Regions from separate parts of the Homo sapiens genome. Here all the other regions are linked to region 1. Evidence: fine-mapped expression QTL. A gene starts in region 1. Each other region holds a variant in brackets. All regions are shown on one strand. Distances are between the middles of the regions. Region 1 holds the start of CDK5RAP2 (CDK5 regulatory subunit associated protein 2). Region 2 overlaps CDK5RAP2 (CDK5 regulatory subunit associated protein 2). Region 3 overlaps CDK5RAP2 (CDK5 regulatory subunit associated protein 2). Region 4 overlaps CDK5RAP2 (CDK5 regulatory subunit associated protein 2). Region 5 overlaps CDK5RAP2 (CDK5 regulatory subunit associated protein 2). Region 6 overlaps CDK5RAP2 (CDK5 regulatory subunit associated protein 2).

Evidence for each region.
Region 2: its variant is fine-mapped to the expression of CDK5RAP2 in whole blood (INTERVAL, PIP above 0.99).
Region 3: its variant is fine-mapped to the expression of CDK5RAP2 in testis (GTEx, PIP above 0.99). The same link has a PIP of 0.9 or more in B cells, CD4 T cells, CD8 T cells, NK cells, ileum and monocytes.
Region 4: its variant is fine-mapped to the expression of CDK5RAP2 in whole blood (TOPMed, PIP 0.94).
Region 5: its variant is fine-mapped to the expression of CDK5RAP2 in tibial artery (GTEx, PIP 0.95).
Region 6: its variant is fine-mapped to the expression of CDK5RAP2 in whole blood (TOPMed, PIP above 0.99).

What each region holds. Positions count from the first base shown.
Region 1 is chr9:120,578,402-120,582,490 of GRCh38, forward strand. It overlaps CDK5RAP2 (CDK5 regulatory subunit associated protein 2), which reads right to left and starts at 1,766. Exons shown (of 38, transcript NM_018249.6): 1 at 1,519-1,766. The coding sequence starts at 1,577. RefSeq lists enhancers at 1,438-2,000, 1,854-1,983.
Region 2 is chr9:120,451,617-120,455,705 of GRCh38, forward strand. It overlaps CDK5RAP2 (CDK5 regulatory subunit associated protein 2), which reads right to left. Exons shown (of 38, transcript NM_018249.6): 21 at 1,840-2,257. Among named protein-coding and RNA genes, the nearest start is that of CDK5RAP2, 130 kb to the right of the region's middle. The variant A/G (reference allele first, on the strand shown) is at 1,805.
Region 3 is chr9:120,386,574-120,390,662 of GRCh38, forward strand. It overlaps CDK5RAP2 (CDK5 regulatory subunit associated protein 2), which reads right to left. Exons shown (of 38, transcript NM_018249.6): 37 at 3,168-3,214; 38 at 2,302-2,719. The coding sequence ends at 2,663. Among named protein-coding and RNA genes, the nearest start is that of MIR147A, 140 kb to the left of the region's middle. RefSeq lists an enhancer at 3,532-4,032. The variant G/T (reference allele first, on the strand shown) is at 2,274.
Region 4 is chr9:120,460,295-120,464,383 of GRCh38, forward strand. It overlaps CDK5RAP2 (CDK5 regulatory subunit associated protein 2), which reads right to left. Exons shown (of 38, transcript NM_018249.6): 19 at 278-373. Among named protein-coding and RNA genes, the nearest start is that of CDK5RAP2, 120 kb to the right of the region's middle. The variant G/A (reference allele first, on the strand shown) is at 2,446.
Region 5 is chr9:120,425,974-120,430,062 of GRCh38, forward strand. All of the region lies in intron 25 of CDK5RAP2 (CDK5 regulatory subunit associated protein 2), which reads right to left. Among named protein-coding and RNA genes, the nearest start is that of CDK5RAP2, 150 kb to the right of the region's middle. The variant C/T (reference allele first, on the strand shown) is at 2,085.
Region 6 is chr9:120,473,057-120,477,145 of GRCh38, forward strand. All of the region lies in intron 15 of CDK5RAP2 (CDK5 regulatory subunit associated protein 2), which reads right to left. Among named protein-coding and RNA genes, the nearest start is that of CDK5RAP2, 110 kb to the right of the region's middle. The variant A/G (reference allele first, on the strand shown) is at 1,958.

The DNA of each region.
Region 1 (4,089 bases):
GATGAAATATCACAGGACCCAATTAGACAGGAACTGCAAAGCATCTTAGTCTGTGCCTCATACATGAAGGTTCTCAATAAACAGAAAAACCATTTGTCCAGGTTTACCCAAGATAGGCCCTCTTTATGTCTGCTGCCCGGGCATAAATATTAATTATTTTCACTTTCCTTTTTTTTTTTTTTAAAGATAGAGTCTCACTTTGTCACCCAGGCTACAGTGCAGTGGCATGAACACAGCTCACTGCAGCATCAACCTTCCGGGCTCATGCAATCCTCCTGCCTCAGCCTCCCGAGCGGCTGGGACTACAAGTGCATGCCACCACGCCTGGCTAATCTTTGTAGTTTTTGTAGAGATAGGATTTCACCATGTTGCCCAGGCTGATCTCACACTCCTGAGCTCAAGAAATCGGCCCACCTCGGCCTCCCCAAGGGCTAGGATTACACAGGTGAGCCACCGCACCTGGCTCTTTTCACTCTTAAGTGTCCCAGTTAGCACAATAAATAACATGGTCACCCTTTCAATTAGGATCTGTTGACTAAAAGCAGCAGCTTGTCCATAGTAGAGCTGGATAAACAGTGCAGGTTCTCCGTCAGGGCTCTCCTCCTCTTCCCTCTACTCACTCTCCAACCAGGAGTCTAGGACAACCACAGGGGCCAGCCGTGGAGCAGAGTTGCGCTCTGTTAGGCCTTCCTACCAGACCCCAGCTCCACCAGCAATGGGGACTCCCACAGTCTCTTGGGGCAGGTCCATGGGAGGCCACTCTTGGCCATTATTCCCTGATTCATATCACCTTTGATGACAGTAGTAATAATGACACTAATGGCAACACAAGATCATTTTTTAAGCACTGATTATGTGGCAGGCACTACACCTGCCAAGCAAATGGCTCGACAGGCATCACCTCTTTTAATCCTCACCCCAACTCTGTTGGGTGGATATTACTAGCCCATTTTACAGATGGGAAAGCCGGTGAAATCACTTTACCAAGGTCACACAGCTAGTCAGTTTACAGGGCTGGATTTGAATCCAGTTTTGTCCAACTCTAGCCAAGGTTCTTAATCATTGCACTCCATTGCCTCCTGGGTGGCCACTATGTGACCCAAAAAGCAAAGTCTGGGCATACCGGCTACACTCTCTCCATAATGAAAACAAACTCTCAAACCAGAAGGAACCATCAGGTGCCCTCAAGGTCCCTGTTCTCCACCAATCCCCACTAACGGGATACTCCAAGTGGCCCCACCCTCGTCCTACTCTTTCAGAAAACTCCTTACCTGTTCTTCACACGCTCTACAAAGTACATGGCGCAATGCTACTGGCAATTGTGGTGCAGGTCGCGGCTCCCAGCCCTCCAGAGTGTCAGGTGGTGGGCCCCCCAGAGACCCTCTCCGAAGGAACCCACCCCACACACTGCCCCTGGCCAGACACCCTCAAGAGCAAACCCCAAGGCCGCGTTAGAACGAAATCCCACCAGCTGGAACCCCGGCCCGGTTACCACGACCACCAATGCCCCGGCCGCACCTGCAGCCGCTGAGCGTCCCAGGGACGGTGACGTCCTCTTCCAACACCAAGTCCATCATGGCTACAGAGGTGGCGACAGCGTTGGTGTCTGTGGCGGCGGCGCCACTAGTACCCCCCGCGATAGCGACCCGCCGGGCTCCCCAGGTCCCCGCCCCCTCCACCCCAGCTCTTGTTCAGACTCTGGCGGCGCCGCTGGAATTCAAACCACAGACGCCGCCATCTTTCCCGGCGCTTCTTCCTACGGAAACGAGGCGGGGTCACGGAGGCGCACGCAGTGAAGCCGACCGGCTGGCGCCAGAGGACGGGCAGGGAAGCGGGGATAGGTGCCATCTTAACTAAGGGCAAAGCATCCGTGCTTAAGCCAAGCAAAAATAAGAGACAAAAAAAGGCCGGCTGCCATTTTTTGTGAGGGCACTTAGGGAGAGGCGAGGGCGGGTGCCATCTTTGTTGAGGGCCAAAGCGGGCCCTAGTCCGTTAATTTACGCGGGAGATGGAAATGAATACAGCCACTCAGGAATCCTCAAAGTTCCTAACCTCGTGTTTGCTTTTCTAGAATAATGACCCCAAAACTTTGGGATTTGACCTTAAGTTGAAACTCAGATAACTGAGTGCTGCCTTGCTTTGGAAAAATACTACGTGCGGAATCTCAAGGCAAACAGTAATTTGCAGACTTAGTTTGAAGCAAATAACTCATTCCCATGAGCCAGTGGTCAACAGCACTCCCACTCCAGTCTCTCACCTATTGGTCTTTTATTACCATTAGGACTCAAAGGCACCTGTGGTCAGAAAACTGAGGGCCAGCAAGAGGAAAGGACTCTCCCAAAGTAATTAAGTATTGACAATGTCTTTCAACTGGAGTGGGGGTCTGCAGCTCCTGCCAACTAGATGAGGGCTCTCTGCATAACCCTGGCTGCCTTTCTTTTTTTTTTTTTTTGAAATGGTGCCTCTGTCGCCAGGCTGGAGTGCAGTGGCCCGATCTCAGCTCACTGCAACCTTCACCTTCTGGGTTTAAGCGATTCTTCTGCCTCGGCCTTGCGCCACCACACCCGGGTAATTTTTGTATGTTTAGTAGAGACGGGGTTTCACCATGTTGGCCAGGATGGTCTCAATCTCCTGACCTCGTGATCTGCCCACCCCGGCCTTCCAAACTGCTGGGATTACAGGCGTGAGCCACAGCACCGGCCCCTTGGCTGCCTTTCTTAAAGCACATAGCAATCACCAAACACTTAGATAATCTTGGCAGAGCTTAAGCAATGAAATTAACCTTCCCCTCCTCAACTCAGTGTTGCTCCTTCCTCTGCAGGCCCTTGTGAGAGAGCCCGATGAAAATAACTTGAAATGGTTGGTGAGTGGATAGATAGTGACTTTCCCAGTAATCTTGAACAATTCCCCTTTCACCCTGTTTCCTCATTCTTTTTTTTTTTTTTTTAAATAGAGACAGGGTCTCACTATGTTGCCCAGGCTGGTCTTGAACTCCTGGCCTCAAGCAATCCTCCCACCTTGGCCTCCCAAAGTGCTGGGGTTATAGGCCTGAGCCACTGCACCAGGCCCTCATTCTTCAGTTAAGTAATTAACCAATTATTGATACTTTTCAAAAGAAGCCTTCCCTAGTCATTTAATCTAAATCAAGCCACTTCTTGTATTCCTAGCAATGCAAATTATTCCTTTGTGGCACTTACCATATTTTGCAATTTGTGTGTGTGTGTGTGTGTGTAAAATCATTTTTTAAATGTCTTTCCTTGCACTAGACTGGAAGCTGCATGGGGCAGGGACTATATTCTGAATTGTTCACTGCTATATCCTCAACACCTAGCACTATGTCTGCCACTCAGCAGCTATTTGAAAATGTATGTTAAATGAATGAGTGATTCAATCAATCAGTCTGGAAATAAGGCCAATACCTATCCTGCAAGGTTTTTGTGAGAATAATCAGAGATACTTTTAGGACCTCTGTCAATAGTAATTCTGTGTATCCCAGATTCATATTCATTCTCTCTCTTTCTCTCTCTCTCTCTGTCTCTCTCTCAGCTTTAGTTAGGCTTCCAAAGCCCGCGATTATTTGCCTGTCCCCCTTCTTTCTCTAGATCTTCAACCACACCCACAATTAGCAATGATAAAAGCATGAAAAAGAGGGAAAGCTTAGCACACCTGGTGCACTGCCTCAGGAACGGGGCAGTCCTTGAAGCCCAGGAACCAATACTCCTTGCCAGTAAGTTCAACCCATGAGATAGGTGTGTCCAAAAGCAGGGAAGTTGGGGTGTCAGGATTCCCACCCTGGCTCTGCCACCAACTCTGTGATCTTTGGCAGATCACCTTTTTTTTTTTTTTTGAGATGGAGTTTTGCTCTTGTTGCCCAGGCTGGAGTGCAATGGCACGATCTCGGTTCACCACAACCTCTGCCTCCCGGGTTCAAGCGATTCTCCTGCCTCAGCCTCCCAAGTGGCTGGAATTATAGGCATGCACTGCCACGTCCGGCTAGTTTTGTATTTTTAGTAGAGGCAGGGTTTGTCCATCTTGGTCAGGTTGGTCTCGAACTCCTGACCTCAGGTGATCCACCCACCTCAGCCTCCC
Region 2 (4,089 bases), 130 kb before region 1:
AGACTGGAGGCCATGGTGGTGATTGGAGGGCTCTTCTCTCCCAGAGAAAGGCAGGTTTATAATATCCCTGTCTGCATTTAAAACCAGACTTTAGTTTATATCCCTGTCACTCCACTTACCAGCTAAATCACTCTGGACAGTTTTCTGAGCCTTTTAAGAGCCTATATTTCTTCATAAGTAAAATGTAGGTAATACCTACCAAATTCATACTCTTGTTGAGAATATTAAATGAGATTATATATATTATATATTATATATATAATATATATACAGACAAACAGAGAGTATCTAGCACAATCCCTAATAGATACTAAAAATAATAATAAACAAATACGGTTTCCTTCCTTTTGAAGACATAGCAAGAGGAATAATTTCAAACTAAAAAAATACATATTTTAATATATTTGGGGAAATTAAGTCCATTCAATTCTCCAGTTTTCCTGAACACAGAATAACATCTCTCACACAATGAAAAATTCAAACAAAAAAAACAAACAAACAAAAGACACCTAGTTTTCCTGATATACAGGTACAAATTGAAGGAGCTGGGGCAGATGAGAGCATTTCTATTATAGCCAAATTGCACAAATTTGCATTTCTAGTACCGTTAATATAATGGCAGTCTCTCTCTCTCTCTCTCTCTCTCTCTCTCTCTGGTCTCTACTGATATCTTTAGAAAACTCTTTTCTAGAAATTACAGTTTTGGTGCATAATTTAAAACAATCAAAAGCAATTTTGCTAATGATATATCTAACTCTCTTTTGTATGCGCAAAAGCAGTAATTTAGTGGTCAGAAAATAAACTTAATTCTCCATTCTGATGCTATAAAGCAGTGTGTACAGTTGATTTCTCAAATACAAAACACCCATCAGAAACAAGAATATCAACAGCCTTCACTGAACCACTATTAGAAACACGACCTATTTCCTTCTCTCCCAGAACACATCTCCCTTCTATAGGGATTCTTGGCCGTGGGGGGGTCAAGCCGTGACCTCAAGAGGATTTTCATAAGGGTCCAATGAAACATTGCCAAAAGAATCTGGTTTTAACAATCTGGCATACTTGATAGGATGTGCAGAGCTTAGAGACAGTATCTAAGCTGAAGGAAAATCAACATGCAAACATTCACTCAACAAACCCGGGTTGGAAGGTAGCCTGATCCAGGGAAAGGGTGTGGCTGTGCAGTCAGGTACAGTGGGAGTCCCAGCTCAGCCCCTTAACCACCGGTTAACAACGGGAACATGGGGTGTGGCTTCCAGATCTTTGATGAGTGTTGTCAGGATAAAAGAATATAGATGAAGCCCTCAGAATAATACCTCTCCTACACAAAGTCTGCACAAGATAAAACCTAGGTTCTCATCCCTACCCCTAAAGTCAGGTTATGACAATTTGACTGCAACCTGCAAAAGCAAATGTTCATCAATACAATGAAAACTGTATAAATTTTGGGACATCTCCACAATGCAACCTTATGTAGCCATTACAAGGAAAGATGTTCCTCATAACATGAAAGAGACAGCTACAGACAGATAGACAGATGTATAAACAAGACCTCACGTGTGTTTTTTCTAAGGAAAACACATAAATGTCACAATATATAGATAAATTAGATAGGGCTGAGATGGAGGAAGAGAGACAGAGGGAGTGAGGGGAAGGAGAGGCAGGGGAAGGTCAGTGAGGACATGCAGCTCTGGGTGGAGGCCAGGGTAAGTGCAAGCAGAGGGAGACACTGGACATTCTTGTCATATAAATGGGAAAAAAGTGGTGAGATTAAAGGTGATTTTTAAAGTTTTTTGTTTGGATA[A/G]AGTAAGTACATAATTATTACATGGAAAAACTTACTCTGTTGGTAATACCAGGGAGGGAAAGGAGGGCAGCCTGCCACCCAGGCACCCCGTGCAGGTTCTCTGGCCGATGCTCTGCGCTGAGTGCAGTGTTGATCGGTTTCTCTTCCCAAGCCTCTCTTGTTGCTTCATGCTTGAATCTCAGCAGGTCGCCCTCCGTGGCCACAGTCTGCACTGAGGCATCTTTCAGTCCTACCTTGGGCACTTCGCCTGCCTTTACTAGCTGGGCCTCACAAGACAACTTCAGTTCATCATGTGGCTTGGAAAATGAGTTGGTTTGGACAAAATGTACAAGTTCACCTTTTTGCTTAGGTGTCTTCTCAGTTTTACCATCAAGGTGTTCTCCAGAAACTTCCTGCTCTGTCAAGAATAGTTGTCCCAGAAGCAGTTCCCGTACCACTTTCAGAAGGTCTGGCCTGTTTTTCCAAAAGGGAAGGAAGTGGGAGAACCAAGCTTTCTGCTAGGCCTTGTCCCCTAGCCAGTATCCCAAGTTATCCCCACCTACTGTTGCCCAGATTCCATCAAAACTAAATACAGTGTGTACCCACAACGTGCCAGGGCCCACATCCAGTATTTTATCCTGTGTAACCTCACGGCACCCAAACAAAGCAGGTACTACCATGTCATTTCATGGATAAGAAGAATAGAATTAATTTAACACAAGGTACACAGCAAGTGAGTGGGCCACATAAATATGTGAATGCAGGCTGGGCCCAGGTAGAAACAAACGGGATTATAAGGTGACCATGACAATTACAGGGTCCTCCCTGACTCTACCCCGCCAGCCAACCTCCTGGCCCTGGCCCCATTTCTACATCCAGGGGCAAGTATGGCTTTAGATGAATCTGGCCAACCTGGCTGGTCCATCGATGACCTAATCCATCTTGGTACACAATGGGTGCTTAATAAAGAGGTGTTAATGAAGGGATATTTGTACACAGGCAGAGTAGAAAGCGCATTGGCTCTGAAGATGGATACAAATCCCTTCATATTCTAACTCTACAATTCTCTGAAAAGAAGATAAGTATTCCTCCACAAGACAGCTATGAGGATTAAACAAGATAGTGTATAGGCAGCAGATGCTTTTCATGTCCTTGCCACATACCCTTGGCCCACCTCTGACTTCAGCTGCGGCTGTGTGGACAGTTCCCATAGACATAGTCCCACCTCAAACACCCTCTACGTCTCTGCTGCCTTGGGGCTTTTTCCAAAGCTCTGTGAGCAAGCCAGTAAAGCAGTGTGGAAGTGTGAAACAGTTTCCATTTCTGGGGAAACTCTCAACCAGTGAGAGAAGACAGCTGTTGGGTAAATGTCCCAGTCTCCCATCCTTCAGACGGACCACACAGGCACAGTATATACAGTCCCTCAGAGGGTCCCCAGCAGTAACCAGATCATTATTGCACCCTTATTGACTTTGCTTTCATTCCTGTCTTACTCTCCCTGAGCCCTCATTCCTGCTCCCTGATGTCAAATCCCAAATAAATCCCTTACACTCTAATCCATATCTCAGGCTCTGCTTTCCAGGGAAGCAAAACTAAGCCAGCATGTAAAACACCTGGAATGGTGCTCGGGTGGAGTAACTCAAGAAGAGCCCCTTGTGTGTTTCTTGTGCTGGGCACTGCAGTGGGCACTGGGGATACAAAACTGTCCCAGGAGGACATGGACTGGTTTTAGAGAAACATACGTAAACAAACTATGAGGGTTACAGGGCAACCATCCCAGAGTGCCCCAGACTGGGGGTGGCAGGGAGAACAACAGCGGAGGGCTTCTAACATCAGTGAGAGGCAAGCCTCGAGGAGAGGAAATGGAACAGTCTAAGCATGGAAAACAACGTGAACAGAGTCAAGTAGCCAAGAAGGGGTGAGGCTGGAAAGATGAGCAGGGAAGAAACGAAGAGTCCTGTACAACACGTTAAAAAAAAAAAAAAAAAAAACGAAGGCCACTGAAAGGCCCTGCGATGGACTGGGCCAGGCACACACGTGCTTCAGAAAGGTGACTCCAGGCCAGGCATCATGGTTCATGCCTATAATCCTAGCACTTTGGGAGGCCAGGGCAGGCAGATAGTTTGAGCTCACAAATTCGAGACCAGACTGGGCAACATGGTGAAACCCTATCTCTACAAAAAAATACAAAAAATTAGCCAGGGATGATGGCATGTGACTGTAGTCCCAGCTACTCGGGAGGCTGAGGTGGGAGGACGGCTTGAACCCAGGAGGCTGCAGTGAACTGAGATCACACCACTGCACTA
Region 3 (4,089 bases), 190 kb before region 1:
TAATCCAGCCCAAACAAACCAGGCTGCTCCTCCACCTCCCAGAAGAGGGAGGGCCTTCACTAGCCCAAGGTTGAAAGTATTTTACGTGACTCTAAACTGGCGGATAAAAATGCACTTCGTTTTAGATTATTGTGTTCCTGAAAAGCTGTGGGTGACCTGAAGCAAATGGCCAGCTGGGCTCCTGGAGCCCCTCCTCTGCAGCTCCTGCTCCAGGCGTGCCTGGGTTCACCAACCAGACGGGCCTGGGATGTACCAGAATCCAATGTGGATCTCTCCTCCAATCCCTGCACCTCAAGCCCTTGCCAATGACCAAGTTCAGCTCCCATGGGCTGTGCACTGACCATGTGCCAGGCAAGGTAGGACTCTTCCCCTGTGGGGACATCTGAGCCCAGGTCTGACTTCCAGGCCTTGCCTGAGCTGCATCTACTACACTGTACAACCTCCTCCCCTCCTCCCCACTGCCCCCGCAACCACACATGCTTACATTTGCGCACACCTGCCTGGAGGGTAAACACCCTGACAGCAATAGCTTAAGCACAACCTTAGAACGACCCTGTATGGCAGACGCGTCTTAATGTTGTTCTGAGCTAGAGAATCTAGGAGTGGCCAACCCGGAGATTTGTTCCTTGTTTGTGAGGAGTATCTGAGCCCCCAAGCCCGTCTCATGGGACATGGGCTGTACAGGGAACTGAGGCCCTGAGTTTTGGGTTAAAAAAAGGTTCCCAGGTAGAGGTCCTTGGGGGAAGGTTAAGTGAAAATGCTATATAAACTGCATGCTGTTTATAAGTGGTGATGGTTTTCCTGCCCCACCTGGGCCGTGGGCTGTGTTGTTCAGCCGCTGCCACTGAACCATCTGTTTCTGTACGAAAAGCAGTTCTCCTGTCCAGCCTGCCGCCTCTGGACTGTTCCCCTGTATGTAAGCCCCTAATAAAGCCCACATCCTGTTTGCTGGCTCTGTGGGTCTCTTCTCAGGCCCCTTGAACCTGGTGCCTCCCCTACTGAGGTTAATAGGGGTTTGGCACAACACAGCCATAGAACTTAAAACAGTACTTTAAAACTTGCTTAAGACCAGCCACTGAGACAGTGAAGAAGAGTCACCGATTTGTGGAAAGGGCCTTGTTGTTCAGCTGCTTTCAAAATCTGAGGCTCCGAACTCTGTAACAGTACTGGACAAGAGTAACTCTCATTTACAGAAGCACAAGACTCGGGACGGGAACCAGGCCTCCTGCTCCACAGCGCCACACCGACCCAGCTTCCATTTAGGAAGTCAACTGTTGTGACTGCTTGCGAAAGGCACTCCAGTGACATTATGGCTCAATCTGAGTTTTCACACACTGGTACGTATTCTACCGAGGTACACCTGTGCAAATATTTCTCAGGAAGAGCACAGATGGCAGGAACCGAAGCAGAAAGGGTCTGTACTGCCCACTTCCTCCGCCCCTCTCTTAATGGATGGGGAGACAGGCAAAGTGGCATGAGGCCACTCCCCGGACTCCCAGCCGGGGCTGCTGCACCCTACGCTTCCAGCAAGTGCAATCCCGTCTCCTCCCCTCACCATCGTGTCTGGGGAGCTGGGCGCCAGGTCAGGTGCTGGCAATTCCATGGTCAACACAAGCCTCTGCTCTCCAGGGGCTCAGAGGATTTGCACAGTGGTGTGGGGGCTGCGGGAGCAGAGGTGGGGCATTTCACCTAGTATCGGGTCAGGAGAGGCTTCCCCAAGGGCAGAAAAAATATTTCTAAAGGACCATTCAAAGCTAACTAGAAAAAGAAAGGGTGGGAGGAGCATGTCCAAGAGGGCGCAGCCTGGGTTAGACTGGGGAGAACACTGTTCCGTTTGCCTGGAACACAGAGTGGAGCGGGAGGAGGCGAGATGGGCAAGGAGCTGGAGGTGCCAGCAAGGCTTGTAAACCTTGTTAGGGGCTCGGGCTTGGATCAGAGGGTAGTGGGAAGCCGCTAAAGTGTTTTGGCTGGGGGCATCTTGGTCAGAGGCAGCGATGTGGATGGCTGATGACACACCCCTGTCATCACGGGAACAATGCAAATGCCACATTCCAGCTCTGGGCCTCACTCTGCTCTTTGCTAAATCGGGAATGGCACCACTGCAAGGGCTGCTGTCCAGCAGACTGTGAGATGCTGAGCACACACCAGTGCCCATGGCCACGCTGCACGGAGGTGCTCTTCTCTGGACACTTGAACGAGCTCAGCAGTGAGCCATGCGACTCGTGGAACCCTGGCCTGTCCCACTTGGGATTTTGGGACCTGGGCTTTGAGGC[G/T]CCACACAAAACAACAGAATCGTCAAGGTGAAATGAAATGAATCATTTAATGAGAATCTTCAAACTGTGGCACTGGCTGAGTACTAAGCAAATCCAGGGGAAGACGTGAAGCCCACCAAGGCGCACAGCCTCAACTCCGGTGCCTGCCCCTGATCTGAAATACAACATCCAAGAGCTCGAGGCCTTTTTACCACCCGTTTGTGGAGCACCTGCACCTTTCTGACAACAACTCTCAAGCCAACTTTCAGAGAGAAAACATGAAGGGAAAAAATAGATTTCCTTTGGCCAGACAGCTCTTTCTTCCTCAATAAATAGGAACCACACTTGGAACAAAGAGACAGCGTGAGCTCGGTGGGGGAAGCACAAGCTTTATTGGCTGAAAGTTCTTCTCAGGAGCCTGGTCTGCTGGGACTGCATGTTCCTGGATGGGCTCCCCCAGGCCTAAGCTAGGAAAAGGAAGAAAAAAAAGGAGAATTTTAAGTCCAAAGGAGGTTTCTGAAGTAAGACCCCGACAGAGGTGAAAGCGAGACTGTTATTCTCAAAGTGCTTTCAAAAACATAGTTTGGTCAGTAAATATTTACCTAATAAACAACGATGAGATCATACTGTATTCATTCATTCAAGAAATATTCATCAAATGCCTACTATGTGTCAAGCATTGTTTGCTGTATTTCTTACTGGTAAAAATAGCATACAAATTTAAAACTTAGAACCCCTACTGGCGACAGGGCATGATAAAACACAACTTTTCATGCACTGCTGGCAGAAACAACTCTCTGAGGAGGACATGTCCCCTGGTTCCACCTGCACCTTCATTTTTCAAGAGGTCCTTTCTGGCCCTGCACTCCTCCTGACCTTCCACTGGCCTGCAGTGAAAAGACTCAAAGGGCATACCTCCAGGTTTCCTCTGGCCTTCCGAAGGATTTTGTGGGTTACGACCACTGAGGAGAGAGCAAAGAATGCAATGATTAGGGCCATGGATATCCAGGAGAGCTGTGTGAAAGCCAAGTGCAGGGAGGATGAACCCCACCCCAAAGGGCTCGGACATGTAGACAACACGAGGTCTGAAGCATCCAGACCAGAGGGAGGTACAAAGGGCCCACCTGACCCATCACAAACCCCAGGGCCAAATAACGCATCAACAACACCTCTTTGAGGCCCCGCTAAGCCACCACCTGACAGTGATGCAGAGGCTACAGCATGCTATGCCGGTTCAGAGAACACCCTACAGCTGTGCACGGCCACCTGGCTGTCCAGGTATCCCTCAGGCTCACTTCTGTGGGCCAGGGAGGGCAATGGCGCAGGGAGGGTAGAGGCCTGGGCCTGCCCAGCACTCTTTAGTTTCCTAGGCCCTCTGGGAAGCAGCTGTGGGAAGGGACTGTGCCCCGATCAGGCAGACCCACATATGAGGGTCCAAGTTCTACGAAGCCAGGTTTTTACCCAGCAGCTCTTAGAGCCAGCTCCAAATGGCCTGGAAGAAAAAACCGTGGGCATGCTGCTTCTCCTTTGCCTGCCCTTTAGCTGGTGGAATAGCCCAGCCTGATTCCTCTGGGCAAGTCACATTCTGCCTGGACAAGAGCTGGTTGGGTGGGATGGTTTCAGAGGTCCCTGCTGACACTGACGCCCGGAGCACTGTACTAGAAAGATCCCCCGTGCATGAGAATTCCCAGGAGGGGCAGGCGAGCCCTGGCTTTCAGGAGCAACTGTAAAGGTGGGTCTTCCTTCAGGCTTTTTCTTGTCCAACACAAACTCCAGCAGTGGCAAGAATGCCCCTCTTGATCAGAGTTCTGAGCCTGATAGGGAATCTGTTCTCAAC
Region 4 (4,089 bases), 120 kb before region 1:
TGTCCAGGTCAAACATCCAATGCCTGCTATTCTACTATAACAAGCCCATTTTTATTTGCAAGTTTATGCTCGTTTTCATGTTTCATGACTGGCTCTGTCACCCAGTTTATAACTTATAAGAAGGAAAAGACCTAGTCTTTGCTTTCCACTGGCACATGAAAGGTACAGGATATAGGCAGAATGAACAGAAAACCCACTGGACTCATTCCAGACTCGAAGACTGATTTGGACATAGAGTGGAGTAGATGAAATAAGGAGTTAACTGAAAGGTTCCTACCTCATTACTCTGCTGCAAATGCTGGTCACTCAGGAAATTAATCTCGTCATCCTCCCCAATTTTGATCGTGTCCTCGTCCTCCTTGCTAGCCAGAAGCTACATGGAGCATGGAATGGTGTGAAAATGCAACCCAAAAAAGTGTGCAGCATGAATATGTATGAATAAGTCAGTGATGTCTTTTTTTTTTTAATGCAAAACAAAAAGCAAACAAAAAAGAGGAAGAAACAAATGCCAAAGCCATGAAATAAAAATTAACCAAGGTTAGAGTTGCTAGTTGTGGCGAATCAGACACAGCTGCCTGGATCAAGCATAATTTAAGGACAAATTCCCCAAGAAAATAACTAAAGGCATTGCCCCTTGCCCTTGCATGGCCTTTCCTGAGCTGCCGTAAATTAAAAATGCCGTCTATTATGCCACTGCCACTCCTGCCTTTACTAAATTCACTTTCAGATTATATAAAAGTAACAAGATTTTGGAAAATAGCTATTGATGGAATTGAAAATATCAAACAGCAAGAAAGTAATAAATGAAATTTATGGTGTGCCCAATTTATGCATCACTTCTATTTAGCGCAAGGCATAAACCTCTTCTTGTTGGACTGTCACACATCTGAGATGGACAGTCCTGGCAACACTGTCATTTTGCTGACAGAAATTCCTCATCTCTAATGAGAAGAGTATCACGCTTGCGTGACGATAACTTTATGCTTTTGGAAATGAAGGACAGTTATTTATAAAGACTGCATAAATCCCTAATGCTTCAAAGAAGTGTAAATCCCAAAGCTTCTGAGTTCTACAAAATGGACGGTACAAAGTTCTCAAGAAAGCCAGTTCTCAGCTCTCCGCAAAAGCAAAAATTCTAGTCATGGGGCACCTGAATTAACCAAATTAAAAATGAGAGAAAAGGTGGCCAGCCACTCCCGGATAAGGAATCAATCAAAGCTATGTCAAAATTATACCAAACCTTATCTGACCAATAAAAGAGTCTGGCCAGGTGCGGTGGCTCACACCTGTAATCCTAGCACTTTGGGAGCCCTAGGCAGGCAGATTGCTTGAGTCCAGCAGTTCAAGACCAGTCAGGGCAACAGAGTGAGACACCTGTCTCTACAAAAAACACAAAAATTCGCCGGGTGTGGTGGTACATGCCTGTAGTCCCAGCTACTCGGGAGACTGAGGCAGGAGGATCACCTGAGCCCAGGGAGGTCGAGGCTGCAGTGAGCCGTGATCACACCACTGCACTCCAGCCTGGGCAACAGAGTAAGACCCTGTCTCGAAAGCAAAAACAAAACAAAAGAGTCTGCACCGAAGGTGCTGAAACCACAGAGTATTGGGTCATTTGTTGGGCATGTTGTACGTGTGAGATACCTACGGTTCTAGCTCAAGTTTTATTTCTGAATCCCTACATTTAGTCAATTATCCCCATAGCTCTCCAGCCCAACTCTCTGTTTTTCCTTTCAGAGGAACAACCTTGTTGTGGAAGAAAAACAAAACAAAGGCAACTGAGTTCAGTTTTTATAGAAACTTCCCAGGGTCAGAACATGTTCAATCTGACCATATCCAAATCTGCAATCAGGATCAAACAGAAGTGATGATCAAAAACCACATCCTACTATATTATCCAGCATGAAACAGACTAGACGTGCATAAATATACCTACTGAAGCATAAAAGTCTATAAATATGGGTAAGGAACCCTCTTTGTCTTTTGGCTTCTTCCCTCATTACCATAACATTCTCGAGTGATAAAGACTAACTGGAACTATCAAACTTGTTGGTGGGAATATAAAATGTTTGGAAAAAGTATTGGCAATTTCTTATAAAACGAGTAATCCTATGACTCAGGAATTCTACTCATAGGTACTCATCAAATTAAAAAAAAAAAAAAAGTGTGTCCCAACAAAGAATTGTACATGAATGCCCATATCACCTTTTACCCAAGTGTCCATTAATAGCAGAATGAATAAACAACTGTAATACACTCATGCAATGGAATACTACCTGGCAATAAAAAGGAACAAACTTGATGCACTAACCACATGGATGAATCTCAAAAACATAATGCTGAGTAAAAGAATATATACAAAAGAGAATATACTGTATGACTCCATTTATATGAAGGTCTAGGCAAAATTAACCCATAGTGGGACAAAATCAGAAGAGCAGCTGGGGT[G/A]GGACTGGGTATGGACAACAGAGGACATGCAGGCTCTTGATAGGGGTTTGCCTTACACAGGCACATACACTTGTAAAACTTAGTGAACGCAGGCTTACAATTTCTATAGTTCATTTGACTATAAGCATTTATTGAAGATATGCACATTGAAGTACTTGGGGGAAGTATACTGATGTTTGCAGTTTCAATTAAAATTTATTAGAAAGATGAGACAGAGTGATGATGGGCAGGTGGGAAATGTGAATAGAACCTAGGTGGTGAGTATATGGGTATTCACTGTGTCTGAATTTTTTCATAATAAAATATTAGGAGAAAGTCTTTCCCATCTTTTAAAAAACAAAACAAAACAGGGCCAGGCACGGTGGCTCACACCTGTAATCCCAGCACTTTGGGAGGCTGAGGTGGGCAGATCACGAAGTCAGGAGATCGAGACCATCCTGGCTAACATGGTGAAATCTTGTCTCTACTAAAAATTAAAAAAATTAGCTGGGCATGGTGGCGGGCGCCTGTAGTCCCAGCTACTTGGGAAGCTGAGACAGGAGACTGGCATGAACCCGGGAGGCGGAGCTTGCAGTGAGCTGAGATCGCGCCACTGCACTCCAGCCTGGGTGACAGAGGGAGACTCCATCTCAAAAAACAAAACAACAACAACAACGAAAGTCTCCCCCTGATTCCCCAACAGCTCTGGCCACTCAGTATTCTCTGCCTCTCTCCAAGCTTCTGCAAGGGGTCTATTCTCACCTTCTGCAATGTGGCTTTACTGCCCAGGAAAGGTCCCCAAAGACCTTGTTGTATTAATGAGAGATGAAATCCACATGGGGTTAGGAAAGAGGCACGGAGAAGCTCCTCCCAGACTCCTGCGGATCTGAGAAGGGTTTCCTCTAAGCTTAGCTGAGCAAAGAAAGTATTGTTAACACATCATTCCAAGTTGAAATATGAAAAGCGTCAAAGTTATTCTGCATTTCCAGAACCACAACCATGCCAATGCTTGACACAGTTAAATAAAAATTAACTTTCATTTCTCTTTACCTCTGCTGACGTGGTCAAGATTAAAAGTAAACTCTCGGTTTCCAGGAATGGTCAAGAAATTAAATGTTATGGACATAGAGAAACATACTTCATGCTGCATGCTATTTACTCATTTTCAAAGATCCAGAACTAAGATGTCAGAAAGAACTGAGTCACTATACCTGGCTCGGCTTCCAGCCCTACCACCACTAAAGAAGCAACCTCCAAGTGTCAACTGGCTCTATCCTCATTTCATCACTTCTCATCACTTCTCTATCCCCTGCAAGCTGGCTTCTGTCCCCCTCACTCTAATGAAACTGCTCAGGTCATGGGACTCATAGGAAGTTCTCAGTACTTTTTTCTTTCTTGCTTCTCAGAGTGTTCGACACTATGAAACACTCCCTCCTTGAAACCCCACGCTGTTACTCTGCACTCTACTGCCTCTCCCCCTGCCTCTTGAGCTATTCTTTCTTCATCTGCTTGGCAGCTCCTCTTCCTCCTCCAGGGAGAACTTCCCTTAATCCCCAAAGTGAGGGCTGGGCACCTGTCTACAACTCCCTTGAGACTCTGCATTCACTCCATCACAGCCCTCACCACACTCTGCCCCAATTGCCCCTCTGCTTCTCTGGATTACAT
Region 5 (4,089 bases), 150 kb before region 1:
GAATCTGGCCTGGACCATCAAGGAACATTTCGGGGAGGTGGCAATGGAGCCATATCTTTGATGGAGGGAAGAACTGCTTTATAAAGATGGGAAGACACTTAAGGGACTCTGGGGAGGGCAGTTCCAGGGATTCTTAGGAGGAAAAACCCTCCATTTTCTCTGAAAGCCTGCATCACTCTGTTAACCATGACATGCATGCCCCATTATTATTGTTGCCACTGTAAGCCAAAAAGTATATGAGACAGATCTCAACCAGTTTTGGAGTTTATTTTGCCAAGGTTATGGATCATGACAGGTGACACAGCCCCAGGAGGTCCTGAGAACATGTGCCCAAAGTGACTGGGTTACAGCTTGGTTTTATATGTTTTAGGGAGACAAAAGATATCAATCAACATATGTGAGGTATACACTGGTCTGGTCCGGAAAGGCAGGACAACTCAAAGTGGGTGGCGGGCTTCCAGGTCATTGGTGGATTCAAACATTTTTCTGATTGGCACTTGGTTGAAAGAGTTATTATCTAAAGACCTGGAATTAATAGAAAGGAGTGTCTGAGTTAAGCTAAGGGGTTACAGAGACCAAGGCTTTTCTTATGTGGATGAAGTCCCAGAGGTGGCCATCCTCAGAGGCAAATATTTCCTATTCAGATCGTTAAAAGGTGCTGGACTCTCAGCCAATCTCTTCAGGATCAGAAAAGGAGAAAGGGAAGGGGATTCTCTATAGAATGTAAGTGTTCCCTACAAGAGACAGCATTTCAGGGCCATTTCAAAACATGTCAAAGAAATATATTTTGGGGTACAATACTTTGATTTCTTTCAGAGCCCTGCAATCTGTCATGTGATGCTATAATGGAGTCAGGTTAGAATTTGGTTTCTTATTGCTACAGAGTCTGTTCAGTCAGCCTAAGGATCTCTATTTTAGTGTTAATACTGGTCAGCTGTGTGCCAGCTCCAAAGGGAGGAGAGTATAATGAGGCATGTCTGACCGCCCCCCACTTTCCCATCATGGTCTGAACTAGTTTTTAAGGTTTTGTTGGGTTCCCTTAGCTGAGGGAAGGGTCCCCTCACCTAGCTGTAGGATTTACAATTTTAATTTTGGTTGATGTATCTTCCTGAGCTCCCCCTATTTGTCAAGGCAGGACACCCTTCAAATCAGGAGTGTCTATTGGGTTTTTTGTTTGGCCAGAAATTTAAAAATGAGAGAAATCAGGGGTGTCCAATCTTTTGGCTTCCCTGGGCCACTCTGTGTCTTGGACCACACATAAAATACACTAACAATAGCCAATGAGCTTAAAAAACAAAAAAATCCATAATGTTTTAAGAAAGTTTACAAATTTGCATTGTGCCACATTCAATGCCGTCCTGGGCTGCATGCAGCCCATGGGCCACGGATTGGACAAGCTTAAATAATGTCATTTCATTCTCACAAACATCTCTATAAGACAGGTACTGCTCTCCCCCATAGAGGAAATCTGGCCCTTCAAAGGATAAATGACCCACAAAGCTGGGATCTGAACTCCAGTCTGTCTGACTCCAAAGGTCTTGTTCTTTCTAACCCAACACCCTTGCAACAGCCTCTATCACAAACTCAGATGTGAATATCAAGTGCAAGCTATAAACAAACCGGGGGTGGGAGGGGGTGGAAAGAATAAATTTTGCTTCCACTTCAGGTGAACAAAGAAAGATTCCTGGAGGATAGGCAGAATTTCTCTAATTTCTCTAAGTGGAAAGGGAGTAGAAGTCTTACAGAAAAAAATAATGGTTTGAACGGAATCATGGAAGAGGGGAAATGCAAGGCCTGGCCCACAGAAATGTTTGATCAACAGAATATACATTTTTTTCAGCACCACACCATACCTATTCCAAAATTGACCACATAGTTGGAAGTAAAGCTCTCCTCAGCAAATGTAAAAGAACAGAAATTATAACAAACTGTCTCTCAGACCACAGTGAAATCAAACTAGAACTCAGGATTAAGAAACTCACTCAAAACCGCTCAACTACATGGAAACTGAACAACCTGCTCCTGAATGACTACTGGGTACATAACGAAATGAAGGCAGAAATAAAAATGTTCTTTGAAGCCAA[C/T]GAGAACAAAGACACAACATACCAGAATCTCTGGGACACATTCAAAGGAGTGTGTAGAGGGAAATTTATAGCACTAAATGCCCACAAGAGAAAGCAGGAAAGATCCAAAATTGACACCCTAACATCACAATTAAAAGAACTAGGAAAGCAAGAGCAAACACATTTAAAAGCTAGCAGAAGGCAAGAAATAACTAAAATCAGAGAAGAACTGAAGGAAATAGAGACCAAAAAAACCCTTCAAAAAATTAATGAATCCAGGAGCTGGTTTTGTGAAAGGATCAACAAAATTGATAGACCGCTAGCAAGACTAATAAAGAAAAAAAGAGAGAAGAATCAAATAGATGCAATAAAGAATGATAAAGGGGATATCACCACCGATCCCAAAGAAATACAAACTACCATCAGAGAATACTACAAACACCTCTACGCAAATAAACTAGAAAATCTAGAAGAAATGGATAAATTCCTCGACACATACACTATCCCCAGACTAAACTAGGAAGAAGCTGAATCTCTGAATAGACCAATAACAGGATCTGAAATTGTGGCAATAATCAATAGCTTACCAACCAAAAAGAGTCCAGGACCAGACGGATTCACAGCCAAATTCTACCAGAGGTACAAGGAGGAACTGGTACCATTCCTTCTGAAACTATTCCAATCAATAGAAAAAGAGGGAATCCTCCCTAACTCATTTTATGAGGCCAGCATCATCCTGATACCAAAGCCGGGCAGAGACACAGCCAAAAAAGAGAATTTTAGACCAAAATCCTTGATGAACATTGATGCAAAAATCCTCAATAAAATACTGGCAAACCGAATCCAGCAGCACATCAAAAAGCTTATCCACCACGATCAAGTGGGCTTCATCCCTGGGATGCAAAGCTGGTTCAATATACGCAAATCAATAAATGTAATCCAGCATATAAACAGAACCAAAGACAAAAACCACATGATTATCTCAATAGATGCAGAAAAGGCCTTTGACAAAATTCAACAACCCTTCATGCTAAAAACTCTTAATAAATTAGGTATTGATCGAACGTTATCTCAAAATAATAAGAGCTATCTATGACAAACCCACAGCCAATATCATACTGAATGGGCAAAAACTGGAAGCATTCCCTTTGAAAACTGGCACAAGACAGGGATGCCCTCTCTCACCACTCCTATTCAACATAGTGTTGGAAGTTCTGGCCAGGGCAATTAGGCAGGAGAAGGAAATAAAGGGTATTCAATTAGGAAAAGAGGAAGTCAAATTGTCCCTGTTTGCAGATGACATGATTGTATATCTAGAAAACCCCATTGTCTCAGCCCAAAATTTCCTTAAGCTGATAAGCAACTTCAGCAAAGTCTCAGGATACAAAATCGATGTACAAAAATCACAAGCATTCTTATACACCAATAACAGACAAACAGAGAGCCAAATCATGAGTGAACTCCCATTCACAACTGCTTCAAAGAGAATAAAATACTTAGGAATTCAACTTACAAGGGACGTGAAGGACCTCTTCAAGGAGAACTACAAACCACTGCTCAATGAAATAAAAGAGGATACAAACAAATGGAAGAACATTCCATGCTCATGGGTAGGAAGAATCAATATTGTGAAAATGGCCATACTGCTCAAGGTAATTTATAGATTCAATGCCATCCCCATCAAGCTACCAATGACTTTCTTCACAGAACTGGAAAAAATGATTTTAAAGTTCATATGGAACCAAAAAAGAGCCCGCATCGCCAAGTCAATCCTAAGCCAAAAGAACAAAGCTGGAGGCATCACACTACCTGACTTCAAACTATACTACAAGGCTACAGTAACCAAAACAGCATGGTACTGGCACCAAAAGAGAGATACAGATCAATGGGAACAGAACAGAGCCCTCAGAAATAATGCCGCATATCTACAACTATCTGATCTTTGACAAACCTGAGAAAAACAAGCAATGGGGAAAGGATTCCCTATTTAATAAATGGTGTTGGCAAAACTGGCTAGCCATATGTA
Region 6 (4,089 bases), 110 kb before region 1:
TCAGAAGAACATGGAGACCCCAGCTGACATCTGAATGGCATAAATAATGCTTCACTGTCCATCTCTGTGCTTAAAGCCTTGTTTGACATCCAGGTTATTTTCTTAAGAAAGATTCCCAGCAATGCAATTACTGGGTCAAAGTATATGAACATCTTTAAGACTACTGAAACACATTAACAAATCAGAAAGCCTTCTTTTTTAGATACCAAGAGATCTATCATTCTCCATCTAGCATCTATGGTTCCCTAAAAATGTCCATCAATGCCATGAAATTATCTGCAAAAAATGAATGAATTTGTGGATTTTTCTAGGGAGAGGGCCTATAAGCTTTCATCAGATTTTTCAAAAGGGATCAATAGCCCCCGAATGGTTAGAGGCAATTACTCCAAATATGTGTGCCAGACTCCTCAAAGAAGCCCCGCTTCTCCTTCAGAGACTTCCAGCTCCATCCATCGGACTGCACACATAAATCAACACACATTGGAAGGAAAATAAACCATTATGTCTAATCTTCTATGCTTGCTGCTTTGAGGACAGTTCATTGTGAAGCAGTCTTCACGCAAGGGAAAGGGCCCTACTAGCAACTTGTATCTAGTTCCATTTTAAGACAATCATAATGATCAATTTGTAAGGCTGATGAAAAACCTCACAGAGGTGTCACAGCACAGCACTCGCTTGGATGCAGTCATGCTGCAGAGGCATTTAACCAGGGAGAAAAAAAGAGACTGTTTTAGAGAAGCTCCTGCGATTAGGGCTGGGGAAAGCTAACTGCTTCACTCCCTCTTCCATTTTCTGACAGGGTGAAAAGTACACAGCTGCTGCTCCTGTGTCTGTCATTTATGTTTTCCCAACTTGAGAATCTTTTCAAGGTGTGAGGAGTTGGGAGAACAAAAGGTGCTTCACTCAGAAAAAAACAAAAACCTTCCTCTTCCTGGAACTGGGGCAGGGCAGACAGGAGCAGAAACAAGGAGTTAGAGAGATCGAAGCTCAAAATAGCACGCCACCACTACTGGGCAAGCCAGTTCAACTAACTGAGTCCTGATTTCCTCACGCAAAATGGGAATAATAATACCTTTGCTTTGCGATTGTGTTGAGGAATAAATGAGATATTACATGGGAAAGACGTTAGGACAGGGGCTAACACATATGAGATGCTCAACAAACATCATTTCCTTCCTTCCACATACTCTAACAACTCCCATACAGAAGACAATATTTATGAGCCAAGATTGCTGATTTTCATGAGTTACAGCAATGATAATCATCTGGAGATGATTTTGCCCCCACCCGCCAGGGGACATTTGGCCATGTCTGGAGACATTTTTGGTTGTTACAACTGCCATGGGAGGATCAGGTGTGCCGACCCTCCCATGGTAGAGGCCGGGGATTGTTAAACATCTTACAAAGCACAGGACATGCCCTCATGACAAAAAAATTATCCAGCCTCAAAGCCTCATACTGCTGAGGCTGAGAAATCCTGAGTTACAGGGAAACTGTGCTAGTCCTCAAGATGGGGAGTGTATCAGCAAGAACCTGGGTTGGGAGCCAAGACGACCTAAGCACTGATAATCCTTCACTGCGGAACACCGGGTGTCTTAGAATGCACATTTCCACTTCTGTAATTTGGGGATCATCCACCAACTTCTAAGTGCTGCTGTGAAGAATAAATAGTAAAAGTGAAAGGATCAGCCACATTCTTGCTCACAATGAGTTTCCTCCCTTCTTGACTTCCCTTTCCAGTTTTAATCACAGTACATCATCTGTCTTCAGGGTCATCCACCTTTCCTGTCAATTTCCAGAGTGAACAGTGCTGGAGTTACAGAAGAGAGCTCTACCTTCCTTAGCCCACATTCTGCCCTCTGGATATGCCAAGGTCTGAGGATTCAAAAACCTCCTGTAAACTAAGTTTATGCATGATGAAATATTGAGACATATGTAAGCTTTTCATGCTGTCATT[A/G]TTCTTAAGAAATCTTACCATTTACTGAGTGCTTACTACATGCCAGGAAGTATTAGGTCTTTACACAGTGTCCTCTCTAGTTTCAACACAACCCTGTAAAGCAGGTAGACATCTAAGTAGGTAGGTAAGTAGGCAGACCAGCCAATCTCAATTTCACAAACACACTGAGGCTCAGGGTGAGAAATTACTTACCCAAGAGCTCAGGGCTGCTGAGTGGCAGAGCTGAGATGTGGACCTAGGTCTGTCTCCCACTGAATGTATTACAAGTCTGAAGATGAACAGGAAGCCTTTTAAGAAACCTTGTTAGTCCCGGTTAGTCTTTGTTAGTCCGAGTTAGCCCTGACCCGCCTCAGTCCCATCCAAGTTTTCATTCATTAAGAAAGAGCCTGTGAAACTTGGGAGCCCCTCATGAAGCTGAGAAGACTCAGGAGCAACCATATCCACCCACAAGGCCTCTCAGTACCCAGAATCAACCTGGCTCCTACCCAGAGAAGCTGCGCAATTGAAATGAAATGTGTCCACTCCCTCTGTGAGTTTCCACACGACTCAACCCCCAGTGCCCCCCACTGCTCGCTCCCACCGCCCACCTCCCCCAACACCACTTGCCAAGTGAAAATGACCAGCAGCTGAGGTTTCTTGAAAAAACTCACTTTCAGAGAGTGACGCCTACTCCCAGAATTTCAGCAGCATGTTTTCATTTTCCCTAAACTCATTTCCTATGAAAAAATCTGGAAATTATCTCATAATTTAGAAGATCAACATGGCAGGGAGGGGCATTCCTGCACAGAACATTTCCCAAATGCCTACTCTGTACCAGGCCCTGGGGAGCAGAGACAGTAAGGTGGGACCCCTGCCCTGAGGGAGCTCCAACACAGGTGAGGAGGCAGAGCAGGCACAGACGGCTACAGAAGGTGACCTCCCCACGCAGGGCAGAAACACAGAGAGGCAACTGTTTTGGGGATTAGCTGGGCTGCCTGACAAATGTAACATTCAAGCTAAATTCTAAAGGACTGGGAGGAGACAAAGTAGGGGAAAGGTTGGGAATAGAAGGGTAGGAAACACAGGTGAAGGTACAGGCAGGAACACACAGCCCAGGGAACGATAAAGAGCTCACTATGGTAAGAGCAGAGGACATATGAGAGGGAGAAATGAGGGGTGATTCTTTTTTAACTTTTCATTATAGAAAATTTTAGACATATACAAAAGGAAAAAAAAAAAACTACTGTAATGAACCTCTCCCCCATCTACACATACCCCAGCCCCAACAATCAGAGAGCCAGGGCCAATCTTGTTCTTTTGATATTCCCACCCACGTCCTCAGCTTCTGCACTGTTTGGAAATGAATCCCAGACATCATATCCTTTCAGCTGTACCCATCCCACTGTGTAGAGAGAGGTGACCAACACTTGTAATCCCAGCACTTTGGGAGGCGGAGGTGGGTGGATCCTGAGGTCAGGAGATCAAGACCATCCTGGCTAACATGGTGAAACACCATCTCTACTAAAAATGCAAAAAATTAGCCGGGCGTGGTGGTATGTGCCTGTAGTCCCAACTACTTGGGAGGCTGAGGCAGGAGAATCGCTTGAACCCGGGAGGCGGAGGTTGCAGTGAGCCGAGATCCTGCCACTGCACTCCAGCCTGGGCAACAGAGCAAGACTCCATCTCAAAAAAAAAAAAAAAAAGGACTTCTCAATTCTGAGAAGTCCCTGAGGCCAACCCTGTGTGTACAGACACATGGACAGAGGCCCAGAGCAGCACTTGCCTGTGGACACAGAGCTAGAAAGTGGGAGAGTCAGGGCTAGAACAAGGCCTCTATCCTAGAGTTGGCTCTCCCCACCACACCTTGCTGGCAGCAACTCATTTCAGCAATTCTGCAGAGATAGGGAGACTTGCTTGAGTCCCAGGGTTCTGTCACTTGACATCTGTGTGACTTTGAGCAAGTCACTTACCCTATCTTAGTTTTCATGACCTTATAGAAAACACAGGGATAGCATTATTATTACTTCACAGAAAGGCTGTGAGGATCATATGAGATAATACACATAGAAGCACTTTCTAAATATATAATAAAGTATTTTTAAAACCTGAGTAATCATGATTTTAAAACCTGAGTAATCAATTTTGTTGCCAAA